3 linked regions of the Homo sapiens genome follow. The protein of the gene in region 1 interacts with the protein of each later gene in a pairwise test. Each region holds a gene or a part of one and is shown in the gene's direction. Other genes may lie near its edges.

The links. The genes of interacting proteins can lie anywhere in the genome.
Region 2: the proteins of BANP (region 1) and ZNF471 interact in binary tests that used the Homo sapiens proteins (3 or more experiments, as listed by UniProt).
Region 3: the proteins of BANP (region 1) and FAM222B interact in binary tests that used the Homo sapiens proteins (3 or more experiments, as listed by UniProt).

The regions. Positions count from the first base shown.
Region 1 is NC_000016.10:88,003,433-88,010,461, forward strand, and holds part of BANP (protein BANP), read left to right. Parts: intron 1-862; coding exon 863-979; intron 980-2,657; coding exon 2,658-2,833; intron 2,834-7,029. UniProt on the Homo sapiens protein: Controls V(D)J recombination during T-cell development by repressing T-cell receptor (TCR) beta enhancer function. Binds to scaffold/matrix attachment region beta (S/MARbeta), an ATC-rich DNA sequence located upstream of the TCR beta enhancer.
Region 2 is NC_000019.10:56,524,831-56,530,717, forward strand, and holds the end of ZNF471 (zinc finger protein 471), read left to right. Parts: coding exon 1-1,118; 3' UTR 1,119-5,382; downstream 5,383-5,887. UniProt on the Homo sapiens protein: May be involved in transcriptional regulation.
Region 3 is NC_000017.11:28,839,786-28,847,135, reverse strand, and holds the start of FAM222B (protein FAM222B), read left to right. Parts: upstream 1-4,345; 5' UTR 4,346-4,454; intron 4,455-7,350.

The DNA.
Region 1 (7,029 bases):
CAGGTGATAATCACGTTGTGTTTCTAGTGCTAGTTCTTTCTCTCCCCAGCCTTCCACAACAAAGCGGACCTTAGATATCCCTTGTGACCAGAAAGTGCTAAGGCTTAAAAACGCATGATTGAAAACTGTGGGTGAGTCTGTACTTTGAGATGAAGCTGTGTTAGCTGCCGCCTGTCTGAACACACTCGTGCTTCCTCCAGGGTGGCGCCAGGCTTGCTGGTTTCTGGGCCATGGTCTGTTCTTTTGTAGAATCTTTTCCTTCAAAGCAGAACCCTGAGCCCTTTGGTTGTAGCTCACACATGTTCCTGCAGGACCTGGAGGCAGCATGTGTGTCCTTCCATCCCAAGTCCAACGTGATGTTTGCCCCTTTCTTTCCAGGGCGCTACCGTTTTGGAATGATACCAACACTTACGTGGTTACGAACGTTAGATCTGTCCCATAGGAATGAGTTGGGATGGAGTGACTGAAAATGTCAAGCCAGTTCTCATGCAAGTGTGCCACCCTAGAAGCTTTATTAACTGGGTGCGATAACAGCTGGTGCGGTTGCAGTCTATTCTGTCACAAGTTCAGCATCCTCAGCCCAGCTGTCCTGTGCTATCCAGTTGTGCAGACAGATCACCAACAATTAGGAAAAGTTACGTTCTGCTAAAAACCCCATCTCCAGTTTATTCTTCCTTAGCATTTGGGGCTCCTTCCCCCTCAGGACGGGTCCCTGGGAGTGGACTATGTTGAATGACTCTTAGGCCTCCCCCTCAGTGCGGGTCCCTGGGAGTGGACTGTGTTGAATGACTCTTATGTGCTCTTACCATGAATGTTGTTGTTTTAAGGCCTTCTTTTTCTTTGTGATTCTTTTGTTCCCTAGCGTCGTCCCCCAGACTACAGTAATACTCAACAATGATCGGCAGAACGCCATTGTAGCCAAGATGGAAGACCCCTTGAGCAACAGGGCACCGGATTCCCTGGAAAATGTCATTAGCAAGTCAGTAGCACGGCACCAACCCCACCTTTCCCTGCCACTGTGCGGAGTCCCATGAGAATAAGTCAACGTCCCTAAGCCAGGGCACAGTCCAGCACACGCTTCATCTCTGTGGTCACAGGGTTGAGCCTGGCAGGCACCGCCCCAGCTCTCTGAGGTCGGGGAGGGCAGGCTGGGCGATGCTGAATGCTGAGTCCAGCCACACCAGGGGCAGCTGCCGCCGGGGACTTCTGTGTCTCGTGCTGGCCGGGGTTGTGGAGGGGGCTGGCTCTGTCTCCTCACAGCAGTCTGTGAAAGCGTTCATCCTCCCACCTAGCTCAGTGGTCCTCACGTCTGTCTGTGCAGAGCGTGTCAGGCAAACAGACGCCCTCTCCCACGGTTGCTAAGTGGTGCAGGCATGTTGAGTTTATGACTTTTTTCTTATACCTTTTTCTCTTGAGACATTTTGAATGGAACTTTGGTCAGAGGTGGGAGTGGACAGAAGACACCGTCCCCGCTCTGTGTGAGGGGAAGGCTGTGCAGTGGCCTCTGGCTGGCATCCAAGCCCTGCTGTCCCCAGGAGTGCCCCTGGGGCTGCGTGAACCCCTGAGGATGCTGTTGCTTTTTCTTTCCCATCTGTGTCTTCACAAAGTTCTATTTGCTTTTTCTCTCAGTCTCCTTTGTGGATTCCTCCTCCTCCAGCTTCGTCCCCTTTCTGTATTGTCTTAGCTCAGTTCTCCAGGGCCGCAGCTGTGGTCGCAAGGGTCTGATACGTGGGGTGAAGGGAGAGGAGTTGGTGATGGGCGGTGAGGAGGTGCCAGGGTCAGCTGTGCCTCAGGGGCTTTGCACTGAGGTCAGCCAGGCAGATGGCCAGTGTTGAGATCAGGTTCAGCGTGGACAGCGCTCTAGAGAATCCAGGCCAGAAAGTGCAGAGTGCAGCGCCCTCCTCTGGGTGCGGCCAGTGTTTTCAACACCCTTTTTTTTGACTTTGCATATAGAGAAATTGTGCTCCTTTCTCCTGCTGGTGCGTAGCAGTCCACGGTAGAGGATGTTGAAAGGGTCACTAAAAAAGGGAAGTAGTAAGTCTCTAAATCATCCTTTTTTTTGAGCACTTGTGGAGGTGGCCTCGCCCTGCTTTGCTAGCAGTGTTCTGTCCTTCCACATCAGCAGCCCTTGGGATGATGGCAGCTCCGATGGGATCTCAGTGGGTTTTTTAAGCCCCGTCAGGGTTTTTTGCCCGTGGGCGTACGTGGGAGTGCTGCTCGCATTGCGAGGGGGAGCCATCTCCAGCGAGCCCAGCAGCGTGGATCGAATTGACCCAGGCCTCTGGGCACAGTTTTCCTCATTTAGTCTTCCCTTTAACCTCGCCGGAAAAAAGACTCTTACCAGCATTTTATGGGATGACTACTGAACTCAGAAGGCAGCATGCTAGGCCTGAGTCCCAGTGAGTATGATTTTACTCCTTTTGTGATACAAACATTTTCTTTAAATGGTTAAGTTTTATTTTATACAGTTTCTTTCAGCCCCAGGCCATTTTCTCCCATGGAGTTTCTATTAATCTTGGTAGAGAGAGCAGTATGGGAAGGCTGTGTGATCCACTGGTCCACACAGAGTTAGATTTTGCGATAAGGAAAGCGCTGACCTTCGCGTGCTGCTTGCGGCTCTTACCACATCGGGCTGGTGTGTTTTTTTTCCCGTTTAGCGCTGTGCCTGGGCGTCGGCAGAACACCATTGTGGTGAAGGTGCCGGGCCAAGAAGACAGCCACCACGAGGACGGGGAGAGCGGCTCGGAGGCCAGCGACTCTGTGTCCAGCTGTGGGCAGGCGGGCAGTCAGAGCATCGGGAGCAACGTCACGCTCATCACCCTGAACTCGGAAGGTGCGTCCAGGGCGGCTTTCCTCGGCCAGAGCGCCAGTACAATTGTTTGTTTGTTTTGCCTTTTAGAAATTTTGTTGTTTTTTAAAGAAGTGATACAGTGGCCAGGCGCGGTGGCTCACGCCTGTAATCCCAGCACTTTGGGAGGCTGAGGCGGGCGGATCACCTGAAGTCGGGAGTTCGAGACCAGCCTGGCCAACATGGAGAAACCCTGTCTCTACTGAAAATACAAAATTAGCCGGGTGTGGTGGCAGGTGCCTGTAATCCCAGCTACTCGGGAGGCTGAGGCAGGAGAATCGCTTGAGCCTGGGAGGTGGAGGTTGCGGTGAACCGAGATCATGCCATTGCATCCAGCCTGGGCAATAGAGGAAACTCCATCTCAAAAAAAAAAAAAAAGTGATACAGTATAGGACAGGCTCAGTGGCTCACACCTGTAATTCCAGCACTTTGGGAGGCTGAGGCGGGTGGATCATGAGGTCAGGAGTTCAAGACCAGCCTGGCCAAAATGGTGAAACCCCATCTCTACTAAAACTACAAAAATTAGTTGGGCACGGTGACAGGTGCCTGTAATCCCAGCTACTTGGGAGGCTGAGGCGGGAGAATTGCTTGAACCTGGGTGGCAGAGGTTGCAGTGAGCTGAGATCGCACCACTGTACTCTAGCCTGGGCGTCAGAGACTCTGTCTCAAAAAAAAAAAAAAAAAAAAAAAGATAGTGATACAGTATAAACATGAAGATTAAAGGGAAAATAACTGTGATCCCACCATTCTGAGATCTCTAAACCTTTTGGGGTTTTTTGGTGCACATTTTATGATTTTATAACTCACTTCTTTCCCCTACACAGTAGAAATCTTTCCACGTTAGTGCAGATGGACAGAGTCATTTTTAGCCAGTTTTGCTTATTTCATCAGGTCTGGATGCTTTCCAGGGATGGCCCCCTCTAACCTTTCGTTATTGAAACTAGCATTGGCCTGCTGTGTTTTCATGTCTCTTGGATCAGTGTCTGGACGTGGGCTCTCAGAGGCAGGTTGCTGGGCTAGAGGACGCAGCTTCCACGGGTTCCATGGCACAGGATGCATTGCCCATTTCCCCCGAGATCTGGAAGGATGTGAAGCTGTTTGTCCTACTTGGACTCCTAGCGGGGGCCTCTCTCCTGCAGGGCTCTGAGGTGCCCTCCCGCCTGGCCCTCGGCCTGCCCAGTGTGCCTTTCAGAGCCGTCTTCCCCTGAGAGCCTCTGTGTGCCCTTCATCCTGTCACCGTAAGTGACCAGATGACTGTCAGTGACTACAGCGTGGAGAAAAGAAAGAACCAAACAGACTTAGCTTTGTGCGTGGAGTTGTAAAGCATGTGTTTTCCTTGCTTACTAGGAAGAACTCAGTTTTTCTGCATCTGCGTCTGAGTTGTTGATTTTTCCTAGCAACTCGATGTTGCTTTGTCTAGTGAACAAAGGCTTTCCTGTTAGGAAGACTCATTACCGTATCTGAAACATTGAAAACAATGTCTTCCACAAAAATTGCTTTTACCTCTAATACAAATTGCTAGGATTCAGATGGCAGAATGGAGGGAAGAGAGAAAGAGACGTTGAGTTGATCTTTTTTTTTTTTCCAAGTTGAGATCTAATTTATATACCATAAAATTGACTGTTTTAAAGCATACGTCTCAGTTGTTTTTAGTATATTCTCAAGGTTGTACAGTCATCACTTCGGACTAATTCTAGAATATTTTTTATTACCCCCAGAAGAAGCCCTGTGCCCATCAACAGTCACTTTCCATTCTCCCAGCCTCCAGCCCCGGCACCCAGCTCATCTCCGTCCTCGTGGATGTGCCTGTTGTGGACCTTGACTCTAAATGGAATCCTGTGGCATCACCCACATTGTAGCTTTTGCCCAGTGCTTTGTTCCTTTTCATGGCTGCGTGATGTGCCGAGGTATGGATGGCCCTCATTCTGTTGATCCATCATCAGTTGATGGGCATCTGGGTGGTTTGCACTTTTTGGCTGTTGTCAGGAATGCTGCTGTGAACGTTGAGGTGCAGGTTTTTGTGTATGTATTAATTGCAGGATCAGGGCAATGGAGTTTTTCACACATGAAATTTGAGGAAAGGAGGGATGCTCCTGATTTCATTTTCATAGAAATTGAAAATCACATTGCAGTAACGACAGACTAATTGTTGTAATTATTTTTGGATGTGGATTTTGTATAAATCCCCACATAGATCTGGCCACCCCCTTCAGGCCTGATGTTTGTTTGATTGAAACTGTGTTAGCTAAGGCAAAAAAACTTGGTAATTCTGGGGAGTCCAGGGTCATAAAAACAAAAAAATCTAAATGAACTTATGAGACGATATCAAATTTGGAGCTTACTTAGTATTGATCTGTATCTATAAGGAAAAATACAAATTTTCTTTGTGTCTGAGTTTAAGTTTTTTTGATGTTTTGTGTAAGACATTTTTCTTTAGCTAGGCTTTGAGCAGAGTTTTATAGCCATCTTTACCACTGATTGTTCTCATCAAACATAATTTTGCTGTACAACACAGGTTGTTAGGATTGGGGTGAACTGCAGAACTTTTTCTCATCTTAAATTTGACTTTATTTTGAAGGAGAGGTCATCATCCAGAGCCATTCTGTTTTCTCATCCCATTAGGAGGAAACATTTTTTGTAATAAATCTGTTTCACTGACTGTCCTTGGGAATGTATATCCCAGTGGGGTCGGTGTTATGAAAATATCTGCTTGAGCTGCCTTATTTGGCATAGTGGCTTGGTGAAAATGAGGAAGTCACCTTTAAATGATTGCTGTGTATGTAAATGTTGGGAAAATAGCCAATCCATTAATGTCTCTTATGTCAGATTTAATCTCAGCCCGTAGTGGCGTCCTCTCTTCAGCACTTCCATGGGGGGTGCGAATGTGCCGAGAATGGGGCCAGCATCTTCCTGCCTGTGGCCCTCTGTCCCAGAGCACCTGGGCAGGTGGTGAATCAGCGAGTTTCTACGAGGGAAAGCATTAGGAATATGGGAAGTGCTAAAGGGGGTGTGCTTGTCTTTCTATTTAGTTGTTTTAGGCCCTGATAAGAAATAGGAGCCGCAGGAGACAGATTGTTCTTAGCTTCTTATTTAAGTATTTAAGTGCCTTAAGTCTTAGAGAACCACAGATTTCAAAACGGTTATTTCTTAAGAATTCCAAATGGCTTGTGTGAATTGACATGCTGTTTTGTATCAAATTTGGAGTCAGTTTATTGTACTGCAAAGATACCATATCATTTTATTCTAGTTTTTTTCACTTAGGTAATTCCGTTTGTCATTACACACGCTCCACTGGAATAAGAAGGATGGTAACTCTCAGCTATTGAAAGCAGGGAACAGTAGACTGTGTCTCATTGGAATAAGAAGGACGGTAGCTCCTGACTGTTGAAAGCATGGAACAGTAGACTGTGTCTCATTAGAATAAGAAGGACGGTAACGCTCAGCTATTGAAAGCAGGGAACAGTAGATTATGTCTCATTAGAATAAGAAGGACGCTAACTCTCAGCTATTGAAAGCAGGGAACAGTAGACTATGTCTCATTAGAATAAGAAGGACAGTAGCTCCTGACTGTTGAAAGCAGTGAACAGTAGACTGTGTCTCATTAGAATAAGAGGGACTGTAGCTCCTGACTGTTGAAAGCATGGAACAGTAGACTGTGTCTCATTGGAATAAGAAGGACTGTAGCTCCTGACTGTTGAAAGCAGGGAACAGTAGACTATGTCTCATTGGAATAAGGACGGTAGTTCCTGACTGTTGAAAGCAGGGAACAGTAGACTGTGTCTTCATTCTTGTGCTTGCCTTTTGTCAGTAGTTTTGGTCTTGGTGTGCTCATAGCTTTGTTTTGTACTTGAAAGTGTGTGGGGCCTCATCATTCAATGACTAAGCTGCCAGCTGAGTTAGAGAAACAAGTTGAGCTAAAATGGACCTAGCATGGGATCTGTTTGTCCATTAAGGGATTTAGTTAGGTTCTTAATCAAGAGTTTAAATTTCTGCTGTGTATGCATTTGATAATTCTTACAAAACGTGACTGATCCTATACATAAAATGTTAGGTACTTCATTTCAGTGGGGGAAGGATTGTGGTTGAATTCTAATTGAATTATTGCCAGGAATTGGTCCCATGGACTTCCCAGGCAGTAGAATGACTTACGTGGTAGCTCTTGGTGATGCCAGTGAAGGCTG
Region 2 (5,887 bases), on another chromosome or scaffold:
CACATACTGGAGAGAAACTCTTTGAATGTAAAGAATGTAGGAAAGCCTTCAAACAAAGTGAACACCTTATTCAGCATCAAAGAATTCATACTGGAGAAAAACCATATAAATGTAAGGAATGCAGAAAAGCCTTCAGACAGCCTGCACACCTTGCTCAGCATCAGAGAATTCATACTGGAGAGAAACCCTATGAATGTAAAGAATGTGGCAAAGCCTTCAGTGATGGCTCGTCTTTTGCTCGACATCAGAGATGTCACACTGGCAAAAGACCCTATGAATGTATTGAGTGTGGGAAGGCTTTTAGGTATAACACATCTTTTATTCGTCACTGGAGGAGTTATCATACTGGAGAGAAGCCTTTTAATTGCATTGATTGTGGGAAAGCCTTCAGTGTTCACATAGGACTTATTCTGCATAGGAGAATTCATACAGGAGAGAAACCTTACAAATGTGGTGTGTGTGGAAAAACCTTCAGCTCGGGTTCATCCCGTACTGTACATCAGAGAATTCATACAGGAGAGAAACCTTATGAATGTGATATATGTGGGAAAGATTTTAGCCATCATGCATCACTCACTCAGCATCAAAGAGTACATTCTGGAGAGAAACCGTATGAATGCAAGGAATGTGGGAAAGCCTTTAGGCAGAATGTACACCTTGTTAGTCATTTGAGAATTCATACTGGTGAAAAACCCTATGAATGTAAAGAATGTGGAAAAGCTTTTAGAATCAGTTCACAGCTGGCTACTCATCAGAGAATTCATACTGGAGAGAAGCCTTATGAATGTATTGAATGTGGAAATGCTTTCAAACAGAGATCACACCTTGCCCAACATCAGAAAACTCATACAGGAGAGAAACCTTATGAGTGTAATGAATGCGGGAAAGCCTTCAGCCAAACTTCCAATCTTACTCAACATCAAAGAATTCATACTGGAGAGAAACCCTATAAATGTACTGAATGTGGAAAGGCTTTTAGTGATAGCTCATCCTGTGCTCAGCATCAAAGACTCCACACTGGCCAAAGGCCCTATCAGTGTTTTGAATGTGGGAAGGCGTTCAGAAGAAAGTTATCCTTAATTTGTCATCAAAGAAGTCATACTGGAGAAGAACCTTAAGAATGTAGTGCATGTGGCCAAGCCTTTAGTTATCACCAATCCCCTACTGTTAATCAGAGATGTCCCACTGGATAAAAAACATATAAATGTAAGAAATGTAGAAAAACCTTCAGCCAGGAGGCTGGCAAGATGGCCGAATAGGAACAGCTCTGATCTGCAGTTCCCAGTGAGATCAACGCAGAAGGTGGGTGCTTTCTGTATTTCCAGCTGAGGTACCTGGCTCATCTCATTGGGACTGGTTAGACAGTGGGTGCAGCCCACGGAGGGTGAGCTGAAGCAGGGTGGGGCGTAACCTCACCTGGGAAGTGCAAGGAGTCGGGGATCTCCCTCCCCTAGCCAAGGGAAGCCATGAGGGACTGTGCCATGAGGAATGGTGCACTCCGGCACAGATACTACGCTTTTCCCATGGTCTTCGCAACCCACAGACCAGGAGATCCCCCTTGGGTGCCTATGCCACCAAGGCCCTGGGTTTCAAGCACAAAACTGGGCGGCCATTCGGGCAGACACCGAGCTAGCTGTAGGAGTTTTTTTGATAGCCCAGTGGCACCTGGAATGCCAGTGAAACAGAACCGCTTACTCCCTTGTTAAGGGGGCTGAAGCCGGGGAGCCAAGTGGTTCCCATGCCCACTGAGCCCAGCAAGCTAAGATCCACTGGCTTGGAATTCTCCCTGCCAGCACAGCAGTCTGAAGTCAACCTGGGATGATCAAGCTTGGTGGGGGGAGGGGCGCCAACCATTACCAAAGCTTGAATAGGTGGTTTTCCCCTCACAGCGTAAACAAAGCCATGGGGAAGTTCCAGCTGAGCAGAGCCCTCCACAGCTCAGCAAAGCCTCTGTAGCCAGACTGCCTCTCTAGATTCCTCCTCTCTGGGCAGCGCATCTTTGAAAAAAGTGCAGATAAAACCCTCATCTCCCTGGGACAAAGCACGTGGGGGAAAGGGGTGGCTGTGGGCACAGCTTCAGCAGACTTAAACATTCCTGCCTGCCAGCTCTGAAGAGAGCAGCAGTTCTTCCAGCACAGCGCTTGAGCTCTGCTAAGGGACAGACTGCCTCCTCAAGTGGGTCCCTGACCCCCATGCCTCCTGACGGGGAGACACCTCCCAGCAGGGGTCCACAGACACCTCATACAGGAGAGCTCTGGCTGGCATCTGGTGGGTGCCCCTCTGGGACAAAGCTTCCAGAGGAAGGAACAGGCAGCAATCTTTGCTGTTCTGCAGCCTCCACCGGTGATACCCAGGCAGATATGGTCTGGAGTGGACCTCCAGCAAACTCCAGCAGACCTGCAGCCGAGGGGCCTCACTGTTAGAAGGAAAACTAACAGGAATATAATCAACATCAACAAAGGACATCCACACAGAAACCCCATCTGAAGGTTACCAGCATCAAAGACCAAAGGTAGATAAATTCACGAAGATGAGGAGAAACCAGTGCAAAAAGCCTGAAAATTCCAAAAACCAGAATGCCTCTTCTCCTCCAAAGGATCACAACTCCTTGCCGGCAAGGGAACAAAACTGGATAGAGAATGAGTTTGACAAATTGACAGAAGTAGGCTTCAGAAGGTGGGAAATAACAAACTCCTCTGAGCTAAAGGAGCATGTTCTAACCCAATGCAAGGAAGCTAAGAACCTTGAAAAAAGGTTAGAGGAATTGCTAACTAGAATAACCAGTTTAGAGAAGAACATAAATGACCTGATGGAGCTGAAAAACACAGCATGAGAACTTCGTGAAGCATACAGAAGAAAAACCTTCAGCCAGATTGAATGCTTTACAGGGAAGAATTCATACTGCAGAGCGGTCTTAACAATGTAAAGAATGTGCAAATGTCCTCAGACAAGATGCACACCTTGCTCATTAGTGAGTTCATTTCAGGCAGCCAGCTCTTCCTCACCCACTACATCACCAAGTCCTGTGGATATATCTGCTAAATATTTTTGGAATTTATCCACTTCTTTTGGTTCCCCAGTCCAAAACACAGTCATTTCACCTGGACTATTTCAATCATTACACAGGTGTCCAACCTTTTGTCTTCCCTGGGCCACATTGGAAGAAGAAAAATTGTCTTGTGCCACACATACAATACACTAACATTAACAATAGCTGATGAGCTAAGAAAAAAAAAAAGTCTGTGCATAGTTTTAGTGATACACCACCTCCGATAAGCAAAAAAGTCCTCACATTCAATGGGTTGCATACCCATGAATTCTAAAACTTCATCCTCTTTTGTCCCTTTCGAGTTAACATTACAGCCACAGTGACCTTTCAAAAATGCAAATTAAGTTACTCTTAAAACTCTAGTTAAAATACTTGATGTACATAAAGTGCTTAGCAAAATGACCAACTCATACTAAGTGCTTAGTAAATGTTAGATAAGTATTCTCCAGAATTGATGTAAATTATTTTTAAACAGTGCATTCTTGAAAGCAGTATGGCAGTCATAAAAATTTTGGAACCAAAACAGTATCTTTTTTTAAGCTAAAAAAAAAGTTTTAAATGGTGTCTTTCTATGTTGCCCAGGGTGGTCTCAAACTCCTGTGCTCAAGTGACCCTCCCACCTCATTCTCAAGTGGCTGCAATTACAGGCAACCAGCCTGACTTAAAACAGTATCTTAAGGTAGATGGTGATTAGCACATGTAGTATGCTTAACATTTAATATTATAATAAGACATCACAGCGGCTGTCTCATGATTAAGGCTGTGTTCCCTTGTTGGTGAGGAAATTAATTATGACTTGATAAATAGAACATGTTTTAAGAAGTGGCTATATAGCTCTGGATAAAACGAACAAAAGAATTAGAATTCCTGCGGGGAATATATACAAGACTTTATTTAGTCAAGTAAAAAAAAATCACTAATGTTTAACTGAAGAAAGAGAAATTGAATAATATAGTTCTATTTCAACATGTGGGTTCACAGATTTATTCTAACCTTCCAAGTAAAGTTGTTCCACTAGTAAAGTTGTTCTGGAGTATATTTTTTTTAAAAAAAACACTTAAAATGTTCCACTTCTTTCATGAGGCTAAGTCAACTCTGATATCAAACCAAGGGGAAAGAAATGAAATTATAGGTGAGTTTACTTAGTTATATACAAAAGGAAATTATTAGCCTCTGCTGATGGAGAACAGAGGCTGTGAATAAATGGAGATCCATAACATGATCCTACATGAATGTTTCAATATTGTAATCCTGTAAGTTACTTTTACATTGACAGTTCTGAAATTCATGTTGAGTGTTAATTAGGCAGGAATCAGAAGGGAGGTTTTGTAGAAGGTCGTATCCATGGGTTTTTTATATTTGAAAAGTGTTTTCGATGTATCATTGGGGGAGATTAAATGTCTTTGACAGTTGTCCAACTAGAAATAAAGTCAGCATCCCATTTGACTCCTTACACAGAAGTTCATTCTATACTCATTACAGATGTAAGAGGTTAAGATGGTAGAGGAGAATGTAGAGTATTTCTGTGCCTTTAGGTTCAGGAGGTCTTTGATAAGCAGGACAAGGTCCAGAAGCCATGAAGAGAGAATGACAGGACTGTGTAGAAGATTTAAACCTTTTTCATGGCGTAAGATACTGTATGCAAAGTTAAAAGGCATATGACAGGCTGAGAGATATCTTAAACATACATTAGAAAGGATATAGCCCTTGAAAAAGGGCTGTTGGAAAGCAGCAAGGATAAGGTGCACAGTCTTGCAGAGCATGTCAACAAAATTTATTGGATGAAGAAATTAAAATGGTTAAATAGAAGAAGTTCTCAACCTCACTAATGATCAGATAAGTGCAGATTGTAAAAGTCCTCATCCCCACCAACACAAACCAGCAGAAATTTTATGTGAATGTGAAGTTTGGATAATATCCAGTATTGTCGCAGGTGTGAGAAACCGTATTTTCAAATATTGAGAGGGTAAATTAGAGGAAAGCCATTTTAGAGGGCAATGTGGTGTTACCTGTCAGCATTTTGAATATAATTACCCTTTGCCACAATTCTACACCTAGTCAGTTATGTTCTCAAAAAGCACAAGTGCAGAAATATAGATGCATAAGCAAATGTGTTGCAGAATTGTGAAAAATTTGGAAAAAATGTTTAGTGCTATTAAAGTTATGGGTTACTTAAGTTACAGAAAATCAGTTTAGTAGATCACTGTGTAGTTACGGAAAATGAGATGGATCTCTACTCAAAGATGTCTTGCAGTTTATGAACTGAGATGTAACTTCATGACTAACATGATGACATCGTTATTAACTACATAAACTTTATAAAGCTTAAAAAATGCATTCATAGTATCTTATTTGTTGTTTTTGTTTACAATACAAATAGAAACCATGCACACAGATACAAGAACTCCTTCCCTGTTGTTTGTTTTTGTTTTGTTTTGTTTTTGGTAGCGGGCGGGGTGAGCTGCTCTCATGTTATTCCATGAGTTTTTTTATGTGTTGCTTGTTGTGCATGGTTCATTTTTTGTTTTTATTTTTTGAGACGGAGTCTCGCTCTGTCACCAGGCTGGAGTGCAGTGGTGCGATCTCGGCTCACTGCAACCTCCACCTCCCGGGTTCAAGCGATTCTCCTGCCTCACCCTCCTGAGTAGCTGGGACTACAGGATAGTCTCGATCTCTTGACTCATGATCTGCCCACCTTGGCCTCCCAAAGTGCTGGGATTACAGGCATAAGCCACCGCTTCCAGCCTGTATATGGTTCATTTAAATCAAATGAGATACTCCTTGAGACATGGGGGAAGTTGAATGTGAGTTATCCTTTGGCCAAGACTTAAAGATGGT
Region 3 (7,350 bases), on another chromosome or scaffold:
TTTTCCTGCCTCAGCCTCCCGAGTAGCTGGGATCACAGGCATGTTCCACCATGCCCGGCTAATTTGGTATTTTTAGTAGAGATGGGGTTTCTCCATGTTGGTCAGGCTGGTCTCGAACTCCTGACCTTAGGTGATCTACCCACCTAGGCCTCCCAAAGTGCTGGGATTACAGGCGTCAGCCACCACGCCCAGCGCTAATTTTTAAATCTTTTGCAGAGACAGAGTCTCACTACGTTGCCCAGGCTGGTCACGAACTCCTGGCCTCAAATGGTCCTCTGCCTTGGCCTCCCCAAGTGCTGAGTTTACAGGCATGAGACACCACGTTTGGCCTTTCCCCAGATATTTTTGTTCTTCGGATGGTTGAATTCCTAGATGCTGAACCCTTGGATATTGAGGACCAATATTGAGCAGGAGAGGGCTGTGGGGTTAATAGAGGATTTTCTTTTCTTTTTTAAGAGGAAAATTTTATTCTTACTGAGATGGAGTCTGGCTCCCCTAGGCTGGAGTGCAATGGTTGAATCTCACTGCAACCTCCGCCTCCCAGACCCAAGCAATCCTCGCTCTTCAGCCTCCCAAGTAGCTGGGACTACAGATGCGGGCCACCACACCCGGCTAATTTTTTGGTAATTTTTTTGTACAGACGGGTTTTCACCATGTGGCCCAGCTTGGTCTCAAACTCCGCCTACTCCACCTCCCAAAGTGATGACATTACAGGCGTGAGTCACCGTACCTGGCCTGAACATTTTTTTTTTAATTAAAAAAATTTTTTTGAGACACAGTCTCACTCGGTTCCTTAGGCTGCGGTGTAGTGTAGTCTAGGCTCACTGCAACCTCTGCCTCCTGGGTTCAAGTGATTCTCCCACCTCAGCCTCCCAAGTAGGTGGGACCACAGGTGTGCACCACCACATCCAGCTAATTTTTTTTTTTTTTTTTGAGATGGAGTCTTGCTCTGTCGCCCAGGCTGGAGTGCAGTGGCATGGTCTCGGCTCACTGCAACCTCCACCTCCTGGGTTCACGCCGTTCTCCTGCCTCAGCCTCCTGTGTACCTGGGACTACAGGCGCCCGCCACCATGCCCAGCTAATTTTTTGTATTTTTAGTAGAGACGGGGTTTCACCGTGTTAGCCAGGATGGTCTCGATCTCCTGACCTCGTGATCCACCCGCCTTGGCCTCCCAAAGTGCTGAGATTACAGGCGTGAGCCACCAGGCCCAACCCTTATTTATTTATTTATTTTTCTTTTTGAGATGGAGCCTTGCTCTGTCACCCAGGCTGGATTGCAGTGGCGCAATCTTGGCTCACTACAACCTCCACCTCCCGGGTTCAATTGATTGTCCCACCTCAGCCCCCCAAGTAGCTGGGACTACAGGCACCCGCCACCATGCCCGGCTAATTTTTTGTATTTTTAGTAGAGATGGGGTTTCACCGTGTTAGCCAGAATGGTCTCGATCTCCTGACCTTATGATCTGCCCACCTCGGCTTCCCAAAGTGCTGGGATTACAGGTGTGACCCACTGTGCCTGGCCTATTTATTTATTTTTTCTTTTTTTCCTTTTTTTTTTGAGACAGAGTCTCGCTCTGTCGCCAAGGCTGGAGTGCAGTGGCGCGATCTCGGCTCACTGCAAGCTCCGCTTCCCAGTTCATGCCATTCTCCTGCCTCGGCCTCCCGTGTAGCTGGGACTACAGGCGCCCACCACCACGCCCAGCCAATTTTTTTGTATTTTTGTATTTTTTTTTTTTGAGATGGAGTCTCGCTCTGTCCCCAGGCTGGAGTGCAGTGGCACCGTCTTGGCTCACTGCAAGCTCTGCCTCCGGGCTTCACGCCATTCTCCCGCCTCAGCCTCCCAAGTAGCTGGGACTGCAGGGGCCCGCCACCATGCCCGGCTAATTTTTTATATTTTTAGTAGAGATGAGGTTTCACCGTGTTAGCCAGGATGGTCTCGATTTCCTGACCTCGTGATCCGCCCACCTCGACCTCCCAAAGTGCTGGGATTACAGGCCTGAGCCACCGCGCCCGGCCCTATTTATTTTTTTAATTGAGATGGAGTCTCACTCTGTTATCCAGGCTGGAGTGCAGTGGTGCGATCTCGGCTCATTGTAACCTCCGTTCCTGGGTTCAAGCGATTTTCCTGCCTCAGCCTCCTGAGTAGCTGGGACTACAGGTGCATGCCACCATGCCCAGATAATTTTTGTATTTTTTCAGTAGAGACAGGGTTTCACCGTGTTGGCCAGGCTGGTCTCGAATTCCTGGCTTCAAGTGATCCGCCCGCCTTAACCTCCCAAAGTGCTGGGTTTACAGGCATGAGCTATCTTGCCTGGCCACTATTTTTTAGATTTTTTGTAGAGATGAGTCTCCCTATGTTGCCCAGGCTGGTCTCTAACTCCTGGGCTCAAGCAATCCTCCCAACCTGGCCTCCCAAAATGTTGGGATTACAAGCATAAGTCACTATGCCCAGCTTTATTTTTAATTTTTTTTTCTTTTGAGACGGAGTCTCGCTCTGTCGCCCAGGCTGGAATGCAGTGGCTTGATCTCGGCTCACTGCAAGCTCCGCCTCCCGGGTTCACGCCATTCTCTTGCCTCAGCCTCCTGAGTAGCTGGGACTACAGGCGCCCGCCACCACGCCCGGCTAATTTTTTGTATTTTTAGTGAGACGGGGTTTCACCGTGTTAGCCAGGATGGTCTCGATCTCCTGACCTCATGATCCGCCCGCCTCGGCCTCCCAAAGTGCTGGGATTACAGGCGTGAGCCACTGCACCTGGCCTATTTAAATTTTTTTAACATTCCTCATTGAGCACTCAACTTGTCTTTTTTTCTTCTCTTTTTCCCCCTTACGTTGTATCTTGGGCCTTATGTGTCCAAACTCTGAAGAGAGGAGACCAGCGCTGGAGTTGAGAGAGAAAAAAGAGCCATGGTGATGAGGAGAGAGTTTAGTCCTGTACCTCCTCTTGCCTGCTGCTTTCAAGTCTGTTTTGTTGAATTCTCAGGACTCGATTGAGCTTAGTCTCTTGTCAGGCTATGCCAAAGCAGCACAGTAGTCTAGGGACTGACAGTTGGGCCTCACTGGACTTTAGTGGTTTTCTTTTACCAGTTTGAAAAAGGGCCAGGCTCACAGTGAGAGCTGGAAAGCAGGGGACTATTTGCCTGCGAATTCCTCAATAGCATACACGCGATGCCTAGAACATTTCTGTCCAATAAACAGCATGTGCTTGATAAACATACTGAACTTAGCGGTGTCCCCAGTGCATTCTAGGCGAGGTCACCTCCTTGACAAGGTCCCCAGGACTTCATTGCACCTCCTAGCTAGTAGCGTATTCTAGGATGGCAAAGCTGCCTTTACATAATTACCCCCGATACATTCTAGACACGATCATCTTGAAAGAGACCCAAATTTTACCAGGCATGGTGACTCAGGCCTGTAATCCCAGCACTTTGGGAGGCCGGGGCGGGCGAATCATCTGAGGTCAGGAGTTCGAGACCAGCCTGGCCAACATGGTGAAACCCCGTCTCTACTAAAAATACAAAAGTTAGCCAGGCGTGGTGGTGCAAGCCTGTAATCCCAGCTAGTCAGGAGGCTGAGGCAGGAGAATCGTTTGAACCCGGGAGGCGGAGGTTGCAGTGAGCTGAGATCGCGCCACTGCACTCCAGCCTGGGCAACAAGAGCAAAACTCCGTCTCAAAAAAAAAAAAAAAAAAAAAAGACCCAGGCTGGGCGCGGTGGCTCATGCTTGTAATCCCAGCGCTTTAGAAGGCTGAGGTGGGTGGATCACCTGAGGTCGGGAGTTCGAGACCAGCCTGACCAACATGATAAAACCCCGTCTCTACTAAAAATACAAAATTAGCTGGGCGTGGTGGTGCATGCCTGTAATCCCAGCTACTCGGGAGGCTGAGGCAGGAGAATCGCTTGAACCCGGGAGGCGGAGGTTGTTTGAGCCGAGATCACGCCATTGCACTCCAACCTGGACAACAAGAGCGAAACTTCGACTCAGAAAAAAAAAAAAAAAGACCCAAATTTATCATCAGTGGTCACCTCAGAGCACCTGAATTCAGGCCTTTAAGTGCAAGTAGGATGCAGAATTCTGGAAGAGCCAGTAAGTCTGTGGCTCCTTGGGGAAGCGCGATCCAAGGGTTTAGTAACCTAGGCACGGTACTCCAGAGGCGTACCCTGAGGCAGCCGCCAAATTCTCTAAGCCTCAGAATTCTTCAAGGCCAGCTCCCATGTCCACTAGAGACCCAGGGGTCCAGACCATCAGGCACTGAGGAAGACGCCCCCGGCAGGGGCTGCGCAGGCGCGTGCGGCCCGAAAGGGCCCAGGCGCTACACGCTGCGCAGGCGCAGGAGCGGCTCCGGGTAGTCCCCACAGCTGCGCCGGTGACTGAGGGGCCGGGCAGTGGAGAAGTGGTGGCGGCGGGCGGCGGGCGGCAAAGGAGCAGCCATGAGGGCCGGGCCCAGTCACCGACCGTGAGTAGTGGTGGAGGGGGAGTGGACAACGCGTGGGAAGAGGGTAACTTAGCGGAAGGATACATGACTTTGTGGGGTGGGCTCTGACTGTGGGAGACGGAAGGGCGTGGGGGAGGTACAGTTTGAGGTGATGATGGGAGAATTTGGGGCACGGGTGGCCCGGTCGCCGGCCGCAGAGCTGGACAGCTTGGTGGAGGGGGACGGGGTTGCGTGCTGTGGAGTGAAGCAGCCCATTTGTATCATCCCTTCCTCCAGGAGCTTTTGGTCGCCTCTCCTTTCCGCTTCTTTCAGAGAATGATTGCGGGGGGAGGGTGGTGGAGGATGAAAGCTCTGCTGGAGCTTAAGAAGCCACCTCTGAACCAGGCAGGGGAAGGGTCGGTCTCCCGGAGTAATAGGCTGCTCTGGGTAGAGGATGGGAGTCGGGAACCCTCTTTTGAAAGCCGGGAGGGGTCTAGGGAAAAGAGCTAGGGGCTTAGAGTCAGGCAGGTTCGAAAGGAAGTCCACCATTGATAAAGCTGTTAGGTAACCTTGGGCAGGTCCCACTTAACCTTTCTGAACACCAGGAAGATGTCATGCTTCAAACGGGCTATTGCAAGCATCACCTATGTAATTGAGATTGTTTATGCAAATTGTGAATTGTAAGTACTATGTTGATGTTAATGTATCACCAACAATGTTAGTGGAATTTAGACCTTACCGTTGTTAATGGAATGACTGATTTCTCTGTTAAGATAAGAAGCGTATTGTTTGTAAAACCTCAGTAGACACATATGTGCTTTCTTTATGGGCACAGCAGACCATGTGCAGAACTACCAGTTCTGTAATGTGATAAATTAGCCATCAGACTTCTGTAGGAAAAATACCGTACTCCGGCGTTTTTACAAACGGTTTGCAGCTCCTCACCCGAAAGGATGGAGGGCCAATCTATTAAAATATTTTCTGAACATAGCTAACTCATGTTGCCTTATAACACAGTTGGCACTAATGTGCTTTAACGAGTTGAGAAAAGGCCGGGTGCAGTGGCTCATGTCTGTAATCCCAGCACTTTGGGAGGCCGAGGCGGGCGGATCACGAGGTCAGAAGTTGGAGACCAGCCTAGCCAACGTAGTGAAATCCCGTCTCTACTAAAAATACAAAAAATCAGCCGGGTGTGGTGGCGGGCGCCTGTAATCCCAGCTGCTTGGGAAGCTGAGGCAGGGGAATCACTCGAACCCGGGAGGCAGAGGTTGCGGTGAGCCGAGATAGTGCTATTGCACTCCAGTTCGGGTGACAGTGCGAGACTCCGTCTGGAAAAAAGAGTTAAGAAAACTAGTTTGAGACAAGCTGGGAGGGCTGCCCAGTGAGGGATGTGAAAATATAATTTGTTTATTATATTTTATTTTATTTTTGAGACGGAGTCTCGCTCTGTCGCCAGGCAGGAGTGCAGTGGCATCATCTCGGCTCACAGCAACCTCCGCCTCCCGGGTTCAAGCGATTCTCCTGTCTCAGCCTCCTGAGTAGCTGGGATTACAAATGCCCACCACCACGCCTGGCTAATTTTTGTAGTTTTAGTAGAGATGGGGTTTCACCATGTTGGCCAGGCTGGTCTTGAACTCCTCACGTCAGGTGATCCACCCACCTCGGCCTCTCAAAGTGCCGGGATTACAGGCGTGAGCCACCGTGCCTGGCTATTTTGTTATCTTTATTTTTATTTTATTTTATTATAATTTTTTTTGAGGTGGGTGAAGGAGTCTTGCTCTGTCACCCAGGCTGGAGTGCAGTGGTGCGAACTTGGTTCACTGCAACCTCCGCCTCCTGGGTTCAAGCAATTCTCCTGCCTCAGCCTCCCTAGTACCTGGGATTATAGGCACGTGCCACCATACCCGGCTAATTTTTGTATTTTTTTTAGTACACTCGGGGTTTCTCCATTGCTGGACAGGCTGGTCTCAAACTTCTGACCTCAGGTGATCCGCCCGCCCCAGCCTCCCAAAGTGCTGGGATTACAGGCGTGAACCACCGTGCTTGGCCCATTTTATTATTTTTAAATTATAAAAAGTTCTCCTTTGCAAAGGAGTCTCTGGCTGCTCCGGGGACCTGTCGCTGTTTTGGAGGTCAGATATGCATAAGGCAGCCCTCTAGCTCTGCTTTTTGTTACCCTGCTTGTCAGTGGGATCTCTCAGGTGGAATATCTCAGAAGAGGAGCCCAAGAGGTGTCTTGGTTTTCCTGAGAGGCTGAAGAAACACTCCTGAGACGTGTTTTTTAATGTAGACAAAGCAGAGGACAAACTATGTGTTTATGGAAAGAGAAAATGGGTTCTTTTTATTTTATTTTGTTTTGACACAGAGTCTTGTTCTGTCGCCCAGGCTGGAGTGCAGTAGCGCAATCTCGGCTCATTGCAACCTCCACCTCCCGGGTTCAAGCAGTTCTCCTGCCTCAGCCTCCAAGTAGTTGCGATTACAGGCACCCACCACCATGCCCGGCTAGTTTTTGTATTTTTAGTAGAGATGGGGTTTCGCCATTTTGGTCAGGCTGGTTTCGAACCAGGTGATCCGCCTGCCTCGGCCTCCCAAAGTGCTGGGATCACAGGCGTAAGCCACCAAGCGCAGTGAGAAAATGGTTTCTAAAGTAGAGATGCAGACTCCTTTTAAAAGGACATAGACACTTCAGCTTTGCTGACTCTGAGGATTGAGACCTTAAACTGTCAAGGCGTTTTGGCAATTGATGAGTGATTGGTCTTTTACCTGAGTAAAGGTAGGGAGGGGCTATACTAGATTCTTGAAGATTCACAAATAAGGGGAGTGAATTTACAGGAATGGGAAAAATGAACCTGGTTGTTTTTAACTTCTCTGTCTGGTAAAATGTGTTTCACTTTTCTTTCCTGGAAATGCACAGTGATGTATAATTTTAACCTTTTTA